2 separate regions of the Homo sapiens genome follow, and region 2 is linked to region 1. Evidence: fine-mapped expression QTL. Tissue or cell type: blood mononuclear cells. Region 1 holds a variant in brackets; the other region holds the start of a gene. All regions are shown on one strand. Distances are between the middles of the regions.

Region 1 (2,758 bases):
CAGTCTTCCTCCCACCCCAGCCTCCTGAGTAGCTAAAACTATAGACACACACCACCACACCCAGCTATTATTATTACTTTTATTATGGTTTTTTTTTTTTTTTTTTGAGAGACGAAGTCCCATTATGTTGCTTAGGCTTGTCTTGAACTCCTGGGCTCAAGCAATCCTCCCACGTTGTCCTCCCAAGGTGCTGGGATTATAGGCATGAGTCACCATTCCCGGCCCATATCTTGATTGTGGTGGGGCTTGCGTGAACTGTCAAATTTGGCAAAACTCAACTGTATTCTGAAAAAGAGCGAATTTTACTATGGGTTGAGCATCTCAAATCCAAACATCCAAAATCCGAAACTTTTTGAGCATCAAGTTGTCTTTTTATGAATATTGTACTTTTTTTGTACTTTTGTAACTTTTATGGATTTTGACAAATGTATAATGTACACATATGGATTTTGATAAATGTGTAACATACACATATACATTATACATTTGTCAAAATCCATAAACAATACAACACCAGCAGCAAACCTTAATGCAAACTATGGTCCTTGGGTGGTACTGAGGTGTCAATATTGGTTCATCAACTGTAATAAATGTACCACTCTGGTGCAGGATGTTGAAAGTGGGGGAGGCTGGAGGGAGAACACAGGAATATGGGAACTTGATACATTCTTTTTTTTTTTTTTTTTTTTTTTTTTTAGAAGCAGGGTCTTGCTCTGTGACCCTGTGACCCAAGCTGCCATGCAGTGGCATAATCATGGCTCACTGTAGCCTCAAACTCCTGGGCTCATGCGATCCTCCCACCTCAGCCTCCCAAGTAGCTAGGACTACAGGTGCAAGCCACCCCCTACCCCAGCTAATTTGTTTTATTTTTTGTAGAGACAGGGTCTTGCAATGGTGTCCAGGCTGGTCTCAAACTCCTGGGCTCAAGCAATCCTTCCACCTCAGCCTCCCAAAGTGCTGGGATTACAGGCATAAACCACTGTGCCCAGCCAGAACTCTGTACTTTCTGCTCAATTTTGCTGTGAACCTAAAACTGCTCTAAAATATAGTCTATTTTTTTAATCCCATTTACTCATTACCAACTCCCAAATTCCTTTACTTTTTTTCTTTTTTTTTTTGAAACAGGGTCTTGCTCTGTTACCCAAGCACAATCATACAGTATAGCAGCACAATCATAGCTCACTGCAGCCTTGACCTCCCTAGCTCAAGTGATCCTCCTACCTCAGCCTCCCCAGTAGCTGGGACCACAAGCTCACACCACCATGCCCAGCTAGGTTTCTTGGGGTTTTTGTGTATATATGTGTTGTAAGACAGAGTCTCACTATGTTGCACAGGTTGGTCTCGATCTTGGGATTCAAGCGATCTTCCGTCTTGGCCTCCCAAAGTCCTGGGATTACAGG[C/T]GTGAGCCACCGCACTCAGCCCAACTCCCAGATGTCTATCTCTAACCCAGGGCTCACACTTGAACATCTGACTCTGTTATTCAACTATCCATTCAACATCTCCACTTAGTCATCTCAAAGGAATCTCATATATTTAACATGCCCAAAACCAAACTGCTTATCATCTCCCTAGAACCTAGTTCTACTGAAGTCTACCCCATTTCAGCATGTGGTAATTCCATCTACTGGTACCGAGAGAAAAAGCCCTTGGAGTCATCCTTGACTCTTCTCTATCTCTTACATGTCGTCAGCAAATCTGTCAGCTGTACCTTCAAAAATTATACAGACGCTGATCACTTCTCATCAACTCCCCCACTGCTTTTTAGTTCAAACAACTATCATCTTTCACATGGACTAATACAAAAGATCCTTGCTCTTCTTGTTTCTGCCCATGGCTGCCTACAGCATATTCTACACACAATAACCACAGCAACTTTATTTTTTTGAGACAGGGTCTGGCTCTGTCACCTGGGATGGAGTGAAGTGGCACCATCTCAGCTCACTGCAACCTCTGCCCCTCAGGTTCAAGTGATTCTCCCACTTCAACCTCCCAAGTAGCTGGGACCACGGGTACACACCACCATGCCTGGCTTTTTTTTTTTTTTTTGTATTTTTGGTAGAGACAGCGTTTTGCTATATTGCCTAGGCTCACAGCCCCTTTTTTTTTTTTGACAGAGTTTCGCTCTTGTTGCCTAGACTGGAATGCAGTGGCACAATCTCAGCTCACTGCATCCTCCACCTCCCGGGTTCAAGCAATTCTCCTGCCTCAGCTTCCTGAGTAACTGGGATTACAGGCGCCCACCAACACTCCAGGCTAATTTTTTGTATTTTTAGTACATGTCAGCCAGGCTGGTCTCAAACTCCTGGCCTCAAATGATCCACCCACCTCGGCCTCCCAAACTGCTGGGATTACAGGTGCGAGCCACTGCACCTGGCCCACAGCCACTTTTAATACTTGAAATCAGATAACATTGATTCCCTGTTTAAGACCTTTCAATGACTTACTATCACATTTAGAATAAAGTCCAAACTCCTTATTATGGCCGATCTGGCCCCTGCTGACCTTTCTGGGCTCACCTCCTACCTCTGGCCTCTCACTCTCTACCCTCCCAGCCACATGTTCCTACCTATTATTGCTTGAATGCCCTGCTTGCTCCTACGCCAGGGCTTCTGCCTTGGCTGCCTCTGTCTGCAACCCTCTCTCCTCTGGATACTAACATGACTCACTCCCTCACTTACTTTAGGACTCTATTTAAATGTCTGTCAGAGAGATCTCCTCTGTTCACCCTCTATATAAAAAAAGCAAAACACATACACAC
Region 2 (2,628 bases), 160 kb after region 1:
ACGCCCAGCTAATGTTTGTATTTTTAGTAGAGACGAGGTTTCGCCATGTTGGCCATGCTGGTCTTGAACCCCTGACCTCAGGTAATCCGCCCGCCTCGGCTTCCCAAAATGCTGGGATTACAGGCGTGAGCCACTGCGCCCTGCCCTAGATTAAAACTCTTTTTTTGTTTTTTTTTCTGAGACGAAGTTTCGCTTTTGTCATCCAGGGTGGAGTGCAATGGCGCCATCTGGGCTCACTGCAACCTCCACCTCCCGGGTTCAAGCGATTCTCCTGCCTCAGCCTCCCAAGTAGCTGGGACCACAAGCACCGCCACCACACCCAGCTAGTTTTTGTATTTTTAGTAGAGGCTGGGTTTTGCCTTGTTGGCCAGACCGGTCTCGAACTCCTGACCTCATGATCCGCCCTTCTCGGACTCCCAAAGTGCTGGGATTATAGGCGTGAGCCACCGCGCTCGGCCTGTATAAACTTTTTTTTTTTTTTTTTTTTTTTTTGAGATGGAGTCTTGCTCTTTCGCCCAGGCCGGAGTGCAGTGGCGCAATCTCGGCTCACTGCAAGCTCCGCCTCCCAGGTTCACGCTATTCTCCTGCCTCAGCCTCCCGAGTAGCTGGGACTACAGGTGCCCGCCACCACGCCCGGCTAATTTTTTGTATTTTTTAGAAGAGACGGGGTTTCACCGTGTTAGCCAGGATGGTCTCGATCTCCCGACCTCGTGATCCGCCCGCCTCGGCCTCCCAAAGTGCTGGGATTACAGGCGTGAGCCACCGCGCCCGGCCCCCGGCCTGTATAAACTCTTAAATGGGAAAAAAGAATCAGGTTTTGGCTGTTTTGTCAGGATATAATAACTAGCCACCACGTTGTGGTCCATTTAATCCTCAAAAAACTTAGAGGTAAGCACAATTCGCTCCTTCCGCGGAAACTGGAAGACGTGAAGCAATTTGCACAGTCTTGCAGTGAAGGGCCAAGCTAGACACTCATACCCAGCCCACCCGCCAGGGCCACTAGCCCAAGGTCGGTCCTGTGCGCCAACAGTCGCAAGCAGGGACTGAATATCCCCCTCTTAGCACAAAACCCAGTAACTTCCGGGAGATCGCCCGAGACCGTCAGCGCGCTTGCGCGGCCCCTTGACGTCAACCACGCCGTTCCTCCCCCTTCTGGAACGCGGAGCCGCTGAGCGGGCCGACGGCCATTTTGTGAAGCGGCGAAGGAGGTGGTGGCTGCGTTGGGCTCCGGGAAGCCGTTCGGGCTGGGGCTGTCGGCCGCGGGGCGGAGGCACTCGCGCGGGGGGTAATTCGGGGTCTGGGTTCTGGTGCCGCGCAGCTTTCCCCGGTAAGACTCCCGCAGCCCCTGAACGGGTGGGGCTGTGCGGGGCTCGTGGTGCCCCTTGGTGGCCCGGGGCGGGGCCTTCGGAGGCCTTCGAGCCCGCGGCAACTAGCGCCCCACACAAAGGGTCGAGGCAGGGCTGCAGGGGGAGTGGGATGCCACTTAGGCCTCTGAGATCTGAGAGGATGCAAGGAGGACGCAAGAGGATGAGCCTGCGTACCGAAGTGGGGACGAGGCCATAGCGAGGACTCCCCCGTGGTCTGAGAGGGGGCAGGCCAGAGCTGGCTGGCTCAGCGGCCTGCGAGCTAACGGGGACTGCAGTAAAAACACGCCTACATCCCGAGTACGGAGGATTTCTTGTCTCCCCCAGTGAAGCAGAGGTTATAACTACATCTCTGTGCCTGGAGGTGGGGAGATAATCGTAGTGAGGACACTCCTTCAACCCGAAATGGAAAGGAGGCCTTTGTGGCCTACCAGCAAAAGGGGACCCAGGTCACACCTGTGGGGAGGAAGCTGTAGTCGGTACACTCCTGTGAGTTCAGAAAGGAAGTGTCACAACCGGCCGCCTTCGTGGCCTGAAGGTGGAGGGGTTTGCAGTGAAATGCCTCCGAGGTCCATTGCTGGGGAGGGGCTTTACTCGAGGGTGTAGCAGTTTTGAGAAGCCGGCGTCTGAAGCTAGGAGGTGAGGGGGTGGGGTGAGTACGCCTCCTGAGGCTCTGAGAATTGTAGTAAGATGCCAGGCCTTTGGTCCCCCAGTAGGGAAGGGGCTGCTGTGAGCAGCACATTTACGGCTCCCTCGGGAGAGGATCCTGTGGCATTTCAGGAGGACGAGATCCAGTGGGCTGCGGAGGGTGGGTGCTTTTGATGGAGAGTTAATTGAGTTTCTCTGAAGCTTGGCTGCATTAGTTTGCAGCCACGTGAATTGGGTGGTGGGAGGGACTTTGAGGATCTACAGGTTAGTGACGGGGTTGGACGCCAGTGCAGCAGGCTTAGCTGCTAGGTTGTAAACGTACGGGCTTTTTGTGTGCCTCCAACGTGTGCTTTATAGTGACAAATCTGAGGGGCTCTTGTGAGGGTTACTCAGTATTAAGTGCTAAACATTTACTCATCTGCGTGGTGTCATGCTGAGAATTGCAGACTTTAAGAGATTTCTGGGCCCTAAAACCCTCCTTGGCTCCAGGATTCTCAGAGATAACCTAATATAAATTGAAGAAGTTGGTAGGGACCGTTTTATATTATTCAATAATAGAGTCAGTATAACCCACTGGAAAAAAGTGTGATGGCAACTGAAGGTTTGTTGAAGGGAG

What was found. PIP is the estimated chance that this variant, and not a neighbour inherited with it, causes the effect.
Region 2: CPNE1 starts here. The variant in region 1 is fine-mapped to the expression of CPNE1 in blood mononuclear cells (TOPMed, PIP 0.95).

What each region holds. Positions count from the first base shown.
Region 1 is chr20:35,820,785-35,823,542 of GRCh38, reverse strand. The region is part of intron 2 of PHF20 (PHD finger protein 20); the gene reads right to left. Among named protein-coding and RNA genes, the nearest start is that of PHF20, 50 kb to the right of the region's middle. The variant C/T (reference allele first, on the strand shown) is at 1,401.
Region 2 is chr20:35,663,459-35,666,086 of GRCh38, reverse strand. CPNE1 (copine 1) reads left to right here and starts at 1,187. Exons shown (of 16, transcript NM_152925.3): 1 at 1,187-1,327. It overlaps RBM12 (RNA binding motif protein 12), which reads left to right and starts at 1,187. Exons shown (of 3, transcript NM_006047.6): 1 at 1,187-1,327. RefSeq lists enhancers at 1,219-1,268, 850-1,354, 1,539-1,648, 1,969-2,018, 1,859-2,364 and 1 more and a silencer at 1,326-1,620.